Homo sapiens: one gene and its partner. The protein of the gene in region 1 interacts with the protein of each later gene in a pairwise test. Each region holds a gene or a part of one and is shown on either strand. Other genes may lie near its edges.

What was found. Proteins that work in one complex are often made in the same cells at the same time.
Region 2: the proteins of ME1 (region 1) and PC interact in binary tests that used the Homo sapiens proteins (3 or more experiments, as listed by UniProt).

Annotation. Positions count from the first base shown.
Region 1 is NC_000006.12:83,210,410-83,218,845, forward strand, and holds part of ME1 (NADP-dependent malic enzyme), read right to left. Parts: intron 6,188-8,436; coding exon 6,089-6,187; intron 1,686-6,088; coding exon 1,515-1,685; 3' UTR 1-1,514. UniProt on the Homo sapiens protein: Catalyzes the oxidative decarboxylation of (S)-malate in the presence of NADP(+) and divalent metal ions, and decarboxylation of oxaloacetate.
Region 2 is NC_000011.10:66,864,384-66,871,383, forward strand, and holds part of PC (pyruvate carboxylase, mitochondrial precursor), read right to left. Parts: coding exon 6,932-7,000; intron 6,815-6,931; coding exon 6,669-6,814; intron 6,510-6,668; coding exon 6,392-6,509; intron 6,071-6,391; coding exon 5,919-6,070; intron 4,582-5,918; coding exon 4,463-4,581; intron 1,967-4,462; coding exon 1,804-1,966; intron 1-1,803. UniProt on the Homo sapiens protein: Pyruvate carboxylase catalyzes a 2-step reaction, involving the ATP-dependent carboxylation of the covalently attached biotin in the first step and the transfer of the carboxyl group to pyruvate in the second.

The sequences.
Region 1 (8,436 bases):
TTTTATATTTTTATTCATTCACCTTTTCTATGCTTTAATAAATCTTTTGCATAGGTAAACACATTTAGTCAGAGCTATAAGACAACATAGAAACAGACAAGAAATACACAGACATTCTGATTCTTCTCCAAATAACTATTTTGAGGAAACTCTTGACTATATGTTACCTTTAGAAATACCTTAACCTCTTCTGCTCATACCTAAAACAATTTGTGTAACCTTCAACTTTCAATAAAATCATTTTATAGTATAATTTATCTTGAATATCTTATACTCCTTAAAGCATTACTTCAAAAACAAAATTCTTCAAATAATTCTATAAATAAGTAGCAAATGTTATTGCACCTTAGCTTTATAATTTAAAATTTTTTCCATTACTTCAAACATTAGTTTCTAAAGTAAATTAATACAGTCTGGGCATATAACTACTCTTTCTCATAGAATGGTATTAGTCATCAAGATATTTTAATCTTATGTAAGGACATTTCTGATACTGGGAACTTAATTATAATACTTTCTCCAAATTCAGGCAAAAGCAAGATGATTATAACACAGTTAGCTCTTCATTACCTGAGTTAATTAAGAGGCCATTCTGGCAGGTAACTCCAGTAGGAACCTAACTTGTTGTCTTAAAGATCCTGAGATCTTTAAGAGGTCAGTTCCTCAGGCAGCCCTTTCTCAAGGATCTTAACTATATACTCTCCTTTCAGACCTTCTCACTGCTCAGGCTGTGCTGAACTGAAGGTGCCAACCTCGGGACAGGGGCCACAGTCCACAAAATCCCTGTAGCAACAGTATGGTAGCTGAAGGATGGGATGTTTGATCAAGGGGGAAAAAAGGTGATTTCAGGTGGGATTTCTGACTCAGGATCAAGGTAATAAGAGCTTTACTCTATGAGATGTAACAATGACAAAAGAATATTAAAATCTAAGGCTGCACAAGGCGCTGTAAACAGCAGTGATCTTTCTCTTAGAACTGTTAGAATTCCGTTGCACAAAAGAACATATATGATCTAGGACTGGAATAAAAATACTTGAGAAGTTATCTTTCTCTAGGCAACAAAGTAGTGTTATTTCTGCTTAGCAAAAGTTCACCTACGCCTAGATTCATTTCTAGCTTTTTTTTTTTGAAAAGTAGATTTTAACAAAATGGTCAACAAAATAATTATGAGTTTTAATGTTGGTTATGTCAATTTATTAGTAATTTTGGTCTTCCCATTAGTGTCCTGTATAAAAATGATGAGTTTCTCCGTAGTACGTACAACAGCTTTTAAAGAGAACGTAGGCAGAATAATTCAGACAGAAACCATAAATAACCAGAAGGCAAAGTGAAGCAAAATTGTCTCATGTGATGTTTATCCCAATTTATATCGATATTCTTCTATCAATTTTTAGACTGTTAAAGTAAAATCTTAATCTAAGTGTCTTATGAATCATTATAAAAGATTCCAACCTTTAAAAATTATGAAAGGTTTAAAGACCTCATTAATAGAGTTAGAAATGTTTGCTATTATCCTACTGGTCAACTTTGGTCTGTATTTTCTGCACCTCTTCAGGCCAAGAATAACAATCAGGTAGAATCTGGTCATAATCAGTACTATACATCTGGGAGCGGACAAATGCTTCTTTGTTTTGCGGTTCAGGATAAACTGTGGCTGTCTTTTCTTGGTATGCATCTTTCACAATCTAGATATAAGAAAAGAATATTAATTATTTTAATAAATAGAGGTAATCATGAGCCCATGTGAGTGGAAGTTTTTATCCATTTCAAAAACACTGTATCCTATGTTTGCAAAAACATTAAGTGTATTATAATAAAAGCACATATAAGCAATGAAGATATAAAATGAAAATGCAATTATAAATCATATAGTGAGAGAGAAAAATGACATCAGCAACTAAGGAAAGTGTGACCAGGTGAGACTGATTCAAGTACTATCACATCTGGATTTCTCAGAGAAGCCAGTGTTCAAAGTCTTGACATGACCTGACTGACAATTAACTTGAAATAAATACCTAAATAGTCCTGCTAAACTTGAACCTTGAATTTTCAAGAATCCCTATTCTCACCACAGCCTCCTACAAAATCTCTTCCTGTACCCCAGGGTCTCCTGATCTTGCTCAGCTAATCATCTAGACACCACAGTCAGGATGAGCACTCTTTGCCAGCGTCACAGATTCTCTGGTCATCACGCCCTGTGTTTCATGCATAATTCTAGTCCCTCGTCTGGGGACCCCTCAGAGCTGGCTTTCTCCTTTTGTGGCTGTGCATCCTAGAACGATGCAGTAAACTTTCTGTGGTGCTATATTTTTTTTCTAGTCTGCACATTATACTTTTTTCTCTCTTTACTTAAAACTTCCTCTTGTGGTTCCCAAAAAGCAATTCCAAACCTTCCCCCATCTTCAAGCTTCCATTTGACTCTCATCACTCACTGGAGAATCACATCATCATATCACATCATGGGAGAAAATTTCAACTACTCAGAGAAAATGACCTTAATTTCCCTTTTGACCAACTCAGACTATCTCCTCAGTGTCTTCATACATCTTCTCTTTCCCTACTTTCTTTAAATGGATTCTCTTCATCAAAATTAATCACTTCATATATACTATTTAATTCACACCAGTTTTTTTTTTTTTTTGAGATGGAGTCTTACTCTGTCACCCAGGTTGGAGTGCAGTGGCACGATCTCAGCTCACTGCAACCTCTGCCTCCTGGGTTCAAGCGATTCTCTGGCTGGCACAGTGGCTCATGCCTGTAATCCCAGCACTTTGGGAGGCCGAGGCAGGTGGATCACCTGAGGTCAGGAGTTCAAGACCAGCCTGACCAACATGGAGAAACCCCATCTCTACTAAAAATACAAAATTAGCCGGGTGTGGTGGTGCATGCCTGTAACCCTAGCTACTCGGGAGGCTGAGGCAAGAGAATCACTTGAACCCGGGAGGCAGAGGTTGCAGTGAGCCGAGATCACACCATTGTACTCTAGCCTGGGCAACAAGAGCAAAACTCCATCTCAAAAACGAAACAAAACAAAACAAAAAACAACAACAACAAAAAAACAAGCGATTCTCCTGCCTCAGCCTCCCAAGGGTTAACAGGCTCCTGCCACCACACCCGGCTAATTTCTGTACTTTTTTAGAAGAGAAGGGGTTTCGCCATGTTGGCCAGTCTGGTCTCAAACTCCTGACCTGAGGTGATCCACCTGCCTTGGCCTCCCGAAGTGCTGGGATTACAGGTGTGAGCCACCGTGCCCAGCCGAATTCACATCAGTTCTTAAAACAATATTTATATGACTGACTTATTTTGATAAGTCTGATTTCAAAGAATATCAGAATGATTATCTCATCTCAATGTAAAACTATGCATTTATGAACAATTAAGGTTATGAATACTGTGCTGTATTATGAAATGTCTATGAAAAAGCAGGAAACAATATGTATATTTCATAATTATAATAATGTTAGAAAATAAACAAACGAAAGACTCAAAACAAACACAGGAAAAAAAATAATACTTATATTAGAAAAATAGGATATTGGTTATTTTCCTTTTCTCTATTTGTTTTCCAAAGTGCCCATAATATGGTAGTATTACTTTTTAAACAGATTTATTGAGATATAATTCACACAAAATTCAAGCATTTTAAGTGTACAACTAAATTATTTTTGTAAATTTACTGAGCTGTGCAACAATATTACCACATTCAGTTTTAGAATATTTCCATCACCCCAAAAAGATCCCTCATGCCTACTTAAGATGGCTATGTTAATTTTATAATAAAACACATTGTTTCATTACTGACATAGACTATGTGGAAATTCATCTCCTCTTTCTGCTCCCAGTTATACCATAGAAATAATCCCTTCTCCCAATGAAATCTTCACTCTCTCTGTCCTGTCAATGCCAAACTCTCTGACAGAGTGGCTTATATTTTATTGCTTTCCTAATTCTCTGCCTTCTGAACCTCCTGTACATCTTGAAATTTCTTTTGTAAAAGTCTCTGATAACTTGTTAAGTACCAAATAAAAGTCTGCATCTGTTTTTCTCTCCAGGATTTGGCTGTGTTGGTCACAATTTCCACTCCCATTCTGAAATTGTCTCTTTCCTAATTATTGACATGCTGCTCAGTTTGGAGTCTCTTAAAATCCTGACCACTTCTCTTCTTAACTGGCATCTTTCTTCTGTCTTCTAGACAGAATAATAAACTATATTCTATTCTCATTTTTATTTCCTTTCTATACTTGCTTTCTTGGCAACCTCACCCACTCCTAGATATTCACCAGTTACCACATGCAGAAGATGCCCAGGTCTTTTATCTAGCCTCTCTTTAAGTTTCAGTCATTTCTATCTACTTGATAAAATGGTACATTTGAATGTGCCATTGATACCTCAAACTTGCAGTCCACTTACATGATCTCCCTCTCTGAAGTTGGTTCTTTGTTCTAGTTTCTCAATTTCTGTGTATGCACTCTGTATTCTTCCATTATTCTAGGTGTGATATCTGAATCTTTTGGCACTCCCCTGCTGTCCCCTGCTTTTTTTCCCCTCTAATCATAAGCTAACTCTTTTTCATTTAAATCTCCAAAATGAACTTAAAATGATAATATGCTATTCAGTATATTAATAGTTTAAACTACTTAAAAACTAGCAGATACATATTAGTAGAATATATGAACATACTTTTTCATAGATAACCAAGCAGATTATTATGTAAAGGTTTTTAGAGAATTACTTCTTTTTTTAAGAGACTGCCTTCAGTCAACGAGATAAATAATGATATGTGACTCTTAAATGGTGTTGTTTAGATAACTTGCTAATAGCTTAAGCTAGTGATTTTCAATCTGGAGCAATTTGGCCCCCAAGGGGATACTTGACAATGTCTGGAAACAGCTTTGGTTGATACAACTGAGCAGATGCTACTGACATCTAGTGGGCAGAGGCCAGGAATGCTGCTGAAGATTGTACAATGCCTGGGACAGCCGCATGATGGTTATTGACCCAAAATGTCCACAACGCTGAAGTAGAGAAACCCCAATTTAAACATATAACTACTGTCATGGCTAAACTGTGTTCCTCCCACCCCAAATTCAGTGTTGAAGCCCTAACCACTAGTACCTCAGAATGTGAGTGTATTTAGAAATAGGCCTTTAAGGAGATAATTAAGTTAAAATGAGACGGTTAGAATGGTCTATAATCCAATTTGATAGGTGTCCTTAAGAGAAGAGGAAATTTGGACACACAAGCGTGTACACACACAGAGAAAAGGCCATATGGGGACACAGAAAGAGGGCAGCCATCTGCCAGCCAAGGAGAGAGGCCTCAGAGGAAACCAAACCTGCAAACATCTTTATCTTAGACTTCTAGCTCCCAGAATTATGGGAAAATAGTTTTCTGTTGTTTAAGCCACACAGTCTGTGGCTTGAATATTTAAAAACAGTTACTACATAACCGTGGTATGTAGTTATCCCAGCCCAAGAAAACTAATACAATTACACTGCAAAAAAAGTCCACTTATCTTCCAGTTTAGTTACAGAAAATTTCTCTGCCTTTGGGTTCTTCTTGGCTAACTCCTTCAGTAGCTCATCTGCCACCCAAACAGCTTTCAAGTTCTTTGACCTCTTTATTTTGCCTTCCGCCCAGTATTATCAGTTGTGATCTGTCATTTATGATGCCACACATCATAGTGACATGGATATGGAAGGTGGTTCAAGGTCTAAATGTTACTCTAACATATCTGTAATATTTTGGTTAATTATCACTAATGTGATATAGAAAAGAACAACTTTAAAAAGGTGAAATGGGAGAAATCTGGCTGACAGGAAGCCCTAATGAATTATTTAAATTTTAGGAGAAAAAAAGAACGATAGAGAGGGAAATTAATTATTCGGCCCAATACTTCCATTCTTCTCTGAGAAGCAAATGTAGCTCCTAAGCTCTACAGTGTCAGTGTGCCTCATTTCTCTGACTTCTGACATAGTAAGTTGATACAGATATACATTTCAAGGAAGCAGATTTTTAATATTTAAAAATGCATATTTAGCAAGAAAAGGAAGGAAAAATAATGAAGCTTGAACAAGAGTGGTTTTACCTTTTCTGCAATTTTCAGAGAAACATCTCTAATGGTATTCAAAGGAGGATAAAGCCGACCCTCTTCCAAGTGTTTATCTGACACTTGCTGAGCTATAACCTTATGAAAAAAAGAAAGAAAAAAAGTGTTTATACTTCACACGATACAATGTGGTGGGTACGCCAATAACTAAGTGAACGGTTACATATAATGGTCTATACAAAAACCAGTGACATTAATATGATTACCTAATTTCATCCCCACTTCTATCAACAAAGAAATAAGCCCAGAGTGGTGTGGTGGTGGTTGAGATCACATAATTGGTGAAAAAGATGGGAATAGAATCTAGGTTTCCTTTTAGTCCACTTCCTTTTCTATTGTACCATGAAATGCTAGATACTTTCCAATTGATACATTAGGGGAACAAGGGAAAAGAAAAGAAAGAAAGAGGAAGATGATAGAGTAATGAAAATGGATCCTGAAAGCAGAGGAGGACAGCTATCCAAGGCTAAGCATGCCATTACTCCCAGCTCTGAGTCATATTCTTGTGCAGGAGGTAGAGCAAAAGGCTGAGAAAGCTAGTTCAGAGTCTCACTACAAATAGGATTTTAATTTTACACAGACTCTGGATTATCTAAATCACCTAATTAGCCTCAACATTTACTGTCCCCAAACCATTCCCTAGTTCCAAATCAAACAGTGTTAAATTTTGTATTGAACCCTAAGGCAGAGAGGGAGACTCAGTAACCCTGATGTTCTCTCCAGCTCTAAGACTTTGATTAAATTTCTAGATGGGGGCAAATCTAAATCAGCTTATACCTAGGCCTTTGTTCCATGAAAATGTGGATGCAGAGAGGGAGTAGGAAACCTTCCTCTTTTGTAACATTTTAAATAATCAAATACTTATTTTTCAGTATATCTTAATATCTTTTAGATTTTTAAATCATGAAATTATTTCCAAAATATTATTCTTTGCCATCAGCAAACATATATGCACTGAACAAGCATAACACTACGGAGAAGCTTAAGAAAAGTGTTATTGTCCTTGAGAGATGTATAATTTAGTAAGGTAACAGAGTACGGGAAGAAAAAGAGAACGCTGAAAGAGAAGACGGCTTAGGCTAATGGTGAAATGTGGGTGCTAAGAAATCCAGAGGAAGAGCAGTTCTGGAAGGCCTTATAGTGCACAGTGGCTTGAAAGGCAAACCTACAGGAAAGCCTGGAGTTAGACAAACAGAAAGTAGGTAGGCATTTCAGACAAAAAACAGAGTCAGACCAAAGGCAGAGTTGTGTGTGAGCTGGACTCAGCAGGCCCAAGTGTCCTGACCTGGGGGAGCAGAGGGTCTGGGTACAGAAATAAGGACTGGAGCATTATCAATGTCAAAAAAGGAGTTTGGAGTTAAATCCCGTCGGTGACTAAGGACTTCTGACCAGGGACATTTAGGCAGAGGTAAGATGGAAAGGAGAAGGAGGTAAAGTTACTAGTATAACTATTTGTTTGATTAGTATTGCTCTACATATTATACAAAATATTATAACATATAATTGTAGGGTGTTGACCATAATTTTATAATAAACTCATCATTTAACTCATTAATTTCTTGCCTTTGTAACAGGATGTTTGCCCTAGAATTGGTCATCAGGGTCCCAAACTTCAGGACAAAGATACGTTAACTATTCCACACTATCAGGAAGTCACCAAACAAGTGGGGCTTGCCATCTACCTCAGAAAGTAGAATCAGCCCTGCCAACCCCACAAACCACAGCCACCCCCTTCCAGAAGGCTGAGCTAGTGAGAGGCAGGGAAATTTGCTGGAACCATGGTTTGGCCTACTGGGTAATGTAGTGGCTTTTTCCTCCCCTCTTCTTGGTGCATGCTACTCCTTCTTAAAGGCTTATGGTGTCCTCAAGGAAAGACTGGGGGGCATTCTTTTCCCCTCCTCAGCGTGAGCAGTTATAGGTATGTGTACTTAAGCAGAGAAGAGAATGGGAAAGGGAGAGCCAGACAGACAGGGTGGCTGTAAGCTGTATACATTCCCATCAGTGGATCTGGTATGGGTACATGAGTTTCCAAGGTCAAGCGGCCATAGCAGAGGAGGCCTCTGCATCCCTGGGGACCTGAAGAAGTGTAAGGAAGCTAGGCTGAAGCCAGACATCCTACATCAGAGGGCCAGATTTGGACCCTGCCAGAGAGAATTAGTGGAGTTAATAATCGAGTTAATAAAAGAGATGTTTGCCCTTTTCCATGCCCTTCCTTCTTTTCTCCAACGTATTTGAAGAAGTAGTCTTTAACAAAAAGAGGGAGGAGGTTTCTCAGAGTCGAGCCAAACATTTCCCCCCAAATTCCTCAAAGTGCTAGCTTCAGAGAA
Region 2 (7,000 bases), on another chromosome or scaffold:
CGCCGTGGGCTCCCAGACAGCGAGGGGACGGCAGGCCGGCGACAGGGCCTCCAAAGGACCATGTGCGAGGCAAGAGGCAAGGCTGACCGGGGGTTTGTTTTTGTTTTTAACAGGGTGGTGGGGAAGGCCTCAACATCCACCCATGCTCCCTTCCTTTCCTTTCCTTTCCTTCCAGAAGGGAGGATGGGAGGGAGAGGAGGCAACGAGGAGGAAGTGGGAGAGGAAATGAAGGGAAAGTGCCAGAGGCAGGGTCCACACCCATCAGGGAAGCAAACCAAGGGCGAGGAGAGGGCAGCGGGGCAGCGGGACAGGGCCAGGGCCAGACGGCAATGGGAGGGGCAGCGGAGAGGAGGAGACAGAGGCGCCGACACTCACACACACAGGTGGCTCGTGCCGCCTGCACCTGTTCGTGCCGCCCGAGTGAGCCCCGCAGAGAAGGGCTCCCCGGAGGTGGGGGACCCGTCAGGCCCAGGTAAGGAAGAAGGGGAGTGGGGGGACCGCCCAGAGGGGCTCGGGACACCCACTGCCCATTTCCGCTTCTCGGGGGCAGAGGCCTGTGTTCAATAAAAAGGAACTTCATAAAATATTTAAGGGTGAACACTCAGCTGAGAGCAGAAACTGTCGGCTAAAAATACTCTGTGATGAGGCAGGCTCTGAAGAGCCAGGGCTTGGAAGTGGGGATGGAGGGAGGCAGAGAAGTCAGGGGCCGCCGGGCAGCACTCAGCCTGGGGCTGCCGCCACCTACAGACTCTTCCAGAAACAGAAGGCAGGTGGCCAGCTCCCTGCTGAAGCCACAGGCTCTGCTGCTTCCAGAATCCAGAGAGCTCTGGTCCCTACCCCCAGCCTCCCCAGCCTCCCTTGTCTCAGAAGCCCAGAGCCTGGCCCAAACTCATGTTTGCTCCCCTCACCGCCCCACACAAGCCCGGGGGCCTCTGCCTTGGACTCTGGAGCAAAGCTGGAGCTCCATCAATGTCTTGCCTCCTTTGGGGCTCAGGCCCCTGGATAGGGAGCAAGTCCCTAGCACAGCTGGCACGGTGCTGGCAGCACGTGCAGGGCTGGGAACAGGCACCGAGCAGGCCGCAGGGCTCCTGCCCACAGCTGGGACCAGAGGCGGGGGAGATGGGTTTCGGAGGCCAATGACTGGGTCCCGGTGCTGAGAGGAAGAAAGGTACAGGGAGCCCTCCTGGAGAAGGCGCGAGTCTTGCTGTGCTGAGGAGCCTGCCGTGGACCGCCTCAGCGCCCCCTACACCACTCTCTCCCCCACCAAGGCTGCCATCTCGCGGCCCCGAATCTACCTCTCGGTCTCCCTCCTGTGCCGCCATCTCCGACTCCCTCCCCCATCCTTGATGGGCCCCTGAGCTTGGCTCAGACTCCATTGGGACCTCTGGGCCCAGTCCTTTGCCACCCCCACCCCCAGGTCCTGCCATGTCAGCCCATCCCTCAGATGGGAGGTGGTGCTTGGGCTCCGTCGGCAGCCAGGCGTGGGGCTCCTGTGGGAGCTGGAGGGTCAGGGGCTGGCTTTGTGTCTGGGTCCCTGCGTTTTGCTCCACCAAGCCAGCCTGCTCCCCGCTCCCACCCTCACGGCTTCCTCCTGACCTGGGCGCCCAGCAGTCTCTTCCCCTGGGAGGCGCCGCCCCTCCTCTGGGCACTGCCTGCCTCCGTGTACTCTATGTCCACTTCAGAGCCCACATGCGGGTCCTCCCTAACTGCCGGGCTGTGGCAACTTGGCACTGCAGCCCCAGGCACCAGGCAGAACCTGTGCACAGGTGAGCTGGCATCTCCCTCTGCTCGAGCTCCGCCCACCTCAATGCGGCCGGTGTCCGGCTGGAAGCTGCGCGCGGGGTCCTCGGTGGTGACCCGGCACTGGATGGCACACCCGTTGATGCGGATGTTCTCCTGCCGCAGGCCCAGGTCGGGTAGGCTCCTGCCCTCAGCCACGTGGATCTGAGCATGGACCAGGTCTACGCTGTAGGGCATTGGGGGGAGGGGGGAAAGGACGGGAGAAAGGGGGAAACATGAGGCGGGGGATAGACGAGGGGCACCGCAGCCAGTGGGGCGTCCACACACAGTGCGACTCCTGCCCATAGGCTCTGGGCCAGCCTGAACAGCCGGTTCCTCCCAACCAGTGGCTCCACCAGCCCCTGCCCTGCTCCCGCCGGGAGCCGACTAAACTACACAGTGCCTGGCAGCTGGAGATGGCCCGCTGAAATACCAGGACCACCTGCTCCTGCATTCCTGACTCACGGTGCCGTCCACACAGCCCTAAGCTGCTCCTCCCTGTACTCTGCCTCCTCCTTCCTTGAGGTCTGTTTTCCCCACTCCCCTAAACTCCCCCTTGGTAAAGCCTAGATTTGAAGCCTCAGCAGATCTCTAGGTCAGAGGGCCAGGATAGCACATTCTTGGGGCCATATGTGCTATGCTGTGTGGGTGGTTGTGAGGGGGGCAGTGTGCAAGGGAACAGGTGCTGTGAAGGCTGGGCTCCTCGAAATGGTAACCACAGCTGTGAGAGGGTTGCACAGTGGGTGCTGGGTCAGGACCTGTCCTTCTGAGGCCTGTTTTCCTGCTGGACTTGTGCCCAAAACCCCCTAGAGATGCTTGGAGAGTGCAAGCTTCCCCACCTCTGCAGGGTTTTCCAAGCTCAGCCTTACTGCTCCTAAGGGCAGTCACAAGTCCAAGTGGAACAGCTGTTTAAAAAACAAAACAAACAAACAAAAAAACCAGGCTGGGCACAGCAGGTCATGCCTGTAATCCCAGCACTTTGGGAGGCCAAAGTGGGTGAATCCCACGAGGCCAGGAGTTCGAGACTAGCCTGGCCAACATGGTGAAACCCTGTCTCTACTAAAAATACAAAAATTAGCCAGGCCTGGTAGTGTGTGCCTGTAATCCCAGCTACTCAGGAGGCTGAGGCAGGAGAATCACTTGAACCCGGGAGGCAGAAGTTGCAGTGAGCAAAGATTGCACCACTGCACTCCAGCCTGGGTGACAGAGCAAGACTATGTCTTAAAAAAAACCACTCAAGGTTTTACATGTATTGCCACTGAGGCTTGTGGTGAAGGCAGCCTGGAACCTACACTGGCAGGATTTCCCCGTGTTCTTGCTGCCTGCTGGCCCACTTCGCAGCAGAGATGACAGCTTCCACTCAGTGCCACAGGCCAGGCTGCACTCCTCCCATGCTTCATCTCCACGACGGTGTGCTGAGAGCCCTGTCATTCCCACCAGAGGAGGAGCTCGAGGGTCAGAGAGGTTGGAGCTCACCCAGGCTCCACGTGGCTTGGGACCTGAGAGCACCTGAGCCCCAATCTGTCTGACACAAAACCCGTGCTCCACAGCAGACAGACTCCCATCCCTAACAGGACGCTCTAAGCAGACCCAAGACCGAGGAGTTCACAGCAGCTTGAGGGGAAGAGTCTCACTCGGCCAAAGTGTTGGCCTTGTCTCTAAGCTTCTCCTAAGGGGAGGGAGGGGCCTCCATGCCCCCGGCGAGCCACAGCAGCCACCCCGACAGCATCCTCAGTCTCAGGTGGGGTTGGGGCTGGGGGCAGAACTGGGGTCAGGGATGCTCCACAGTGAGATGGGCTGGCCCAAAGCAGCGTCAAGAAATTACATGGCTCATAGTAGAGACCTTGAAGGGTGAGGGCCATCATGACTGTCATTTAGAAACCAGGCGGATTTTGAAAATGTCATCCTCAGTGCCTGCAGGGAGCACGCTAGTGCCACCTCTCTAGAGGGCTGTTCCGAGGGATGCTACTTATCCTTCAATCAGATAATCCTGTTGAAGGGTTTACCCTCAGAACTCTTCAGAGCTGAAGCCAAACATTCAGGCACACAGATGATAAGTGACACGCTTAATAACCACCAAAGCCAGACACACAAACTAATTGCCTAACAATCGAGGACTATGTAAGTTAAGAAATACACACAAGACGGAATAGTACGCAGCCACTAAAAGTATTCAGACAGAATTATGGCCTGGGGAAATGCCTTCAACAAATATTAAATAATTTGAAAAGTAGAATAAAAATTCTATATAAAACATCTCTATTGCATCAAACTATGTCTCTAGTAAAACAGGTAAACCGGGAAAGGAGCAAACCAAAGACAGCCGGAGATGCCTGGGTTCCAGCGCCAGCTGTGTGACCCCGAGCAACTCTCCAAATGTCTCTGAGCCTTGCTTTACTCCTCTGACAGATGGGAGCACCTGGGCCTGAGCAATCGGCAGCGTCCTGACAGAGAGGAGGGCTGTCAGTCATTTTTATTTGCTCCTTTGTGCTGATTTTTATAATAACCACGTAATGCTTTTAGAATAATGACTTTTAAAACACTAAGTACCTGGATCCCCATTGCTCTCCACCAATGTGGGGAGTGAGCAAGCCCCCTGGCTGGCCCCAGGAGCCACTTCGCCTGTACTTTATGCAAATCCTAGAAGCCGCGCCTCCCGCCCCGCCTGCCCGCCCACACTCACTCGGTGATCTCCTCTGTGACCGTGTGCTCCACCTGCAGGCGGGAGTTGACCTCGATGAAGTAGTGCTTGCCGTGCCTGTCCACCAGGAACTCCACGGTGCCTGCGTTCTCGTAGCCCACCTGTGGGGGCGGCCACGTGAGCAGGGGAGGGCACAGGCAGGGCCTGGGCAAACTCACTGGACTCAGGACAGGGATTCCGTCCCACCCATTGGGTTGGTTCCGTAAAAGAATGGCCTGTGGCAAACCCTGCCCCCACAGATGGCAGACAGACCCCAGGGCCCAGGTCATGCTCCTGCCTGGACACGTCCCCCAAGTAGTCCACTAGGCTCCAGGGTTCCCGGAGCCACAGATGGCTGCACCCAGCTTATCTGGGACGAGACATGGGCAGAAGCCCCCACCCATCCCAGGCTCGGCACCTTGCCCTGCTGCCTCCTGGGCTTGCCCGCCAAGGCTGTGTCATCCACCCAGACACGGAGACCCAGGCCTCTCCCAGCCGCTGCTTCTGCTTGGAGGTGTTTTCAGAAAGTCCCCTTCTAGTCTACTGCGCAGTCACCTCTGGCCACCACCACCCAAAGAAATTCATTTGAGAGGTACCAACAGATAATGACTCTAACTCAAATTTCAGCCCTAATTCCAGTTTCACTTTTGGTCTCACCAAAACGATAAACCAGACTGAATCACCTCCCTTAAACCTGTTCTGGAATGTGAAATAGTATAAGCCAGTAAATAAGACCTGACTTAAACGCGACCCTGGTCGATGCCTCGCATTAGCTGTGGCTGAGGCCTTGCTGCAGAGTGCACACCCCGGCCTTCGGCATGGGGAGGTGACGCATCCTCTGCTGCCTATAGGCCAGGGAAGAAGAGGGGGCAGGACCCCGCTGCACACCTGGCCACAGCAGGTGCTCTCCAGGCCAGTCCTGGGGCAGGTCACTGTGGGGAGATAGCTTGCCACCTCAGCCTCCTCCACAGCCCAGGACCCCCCGACCAGAGGTCCCAGAAAAGCAGAGATGGGCAGAGGGTGCAGAGCAAGGAAACAGATCATAATAAACATGATGTAGGAGACAGAAGCACATGAGGGAGGACTGCCTTCATAATGGTCCTCAATCTTGACAGAATCCACGGAATCTCATTCTCCTGATGACAGGGATGAGCTGATGCCACAGAGAAGCCAGGTCTGTGTAGCAGCAGGGCTGAGGAGGCGGCTGGGGCTCCTTCCCTCCCTCTTCTCAGCCATCCTGGACTCTAAGCTTGGCCTCTGGGCCAGGTGCCTCAACTGCACATGGGAAGGATGCCACAAACCCACTTCTGGCCCCCAGGAGAGTCCTTCACCCTCTTCTCCCCATCCCCAGTCCCCAGAAGGGGACTCAGGGTCCCCTTCCCCAACCAGCGCCCCACTGTGAGGCCTGCCGGCCTGTGAGCACAGGCTCCTGTCCCAACACGGGAAGCCCACCCTTCACCTGTTTAGCGAGTTTCACAGAGTCGCTGGTGAGCCGAGTCCGAAGCTGCGGGTCCAGGTGGGCGGCGGGGGCAATCTCGACCACCTTCTGGTGCCGCCGCTGGATGGAGCAGTCTCGCTCGTACAGGTGCAGGATGTTCCCATACTGGTCCCCTGGGGAGGGAGGTAAACTGGGCTTAGCTTTTACTGGAATCTACACGCCTCCTAAATGCCCCATCACCCCCACATAACCACTGTCGCCAGTCAGTGCCGGCTGCCAGCGGTACAGAGGCTGCCAGGAGAGACACCAGCATCACCAAGGCTGTGAGGACCAACTGCCAGCTCGGCCCCTAGAGCCCACTTTCCAGAGTCCTCTGGAAAAGCGCCCGACAGGCCCCAGGGCTGTCCCCAAGGCCAGCCACTGTGACGGCACCAGGACTGGGCCTCTCAGCTCCCGCCTCCAGCTGCCCCAGGCGGGGCGTCAGGACCACTCACCCAAGATCTGCACCTCGATGTGCCGTGGCTTCTCGATGAACTTCTCCACAAACAGCGCCCCATTCCCAAAGGCGGCCAGAGCCTCTGAGTAGGCCCGGGTGTAATTCTCCTCCAGCTCCTGCGAGGGCGGGCAGGGGCCAGCCAGACCTCAGACCCCACAGCGCTACCTCTCCCCTGCCATGAACCCCACCCACTTTCCAGATCCCTTGAGTGGTCCGCCCCTGCCCCCACGGCAGGCTGCCCTGCCCTGCTCCCAGCCCTGGGCATCTTCACTCACCTCGTAGCTGTGCACCACCCTCATGCCACGCCCTCCACCCCCATAGGCCGCCTTGAAGATGATGGGGAAGCCGTAGGTGTTGGAGAACTCGTGGGCCTCATGCAGGGACGTGATGGGGGCATCTGTGCCAGGGACAACGGGAACACCTGTTGGGAGAAAGGTGTGGGGGAGTCTCTGTAACAGGCGGGAATCCCTGCCACCCCTCCCTGCTGGACCCTCTCCAGGAGCTGCGGGGCCACCCCTTGCTTGCCCGTTATATTCACCCGCAGCAATGGCGATGGCCCGGGCCTCCACCTTGTCTCCCATCTTGCGGACCACTTCTGGGCTTGGCC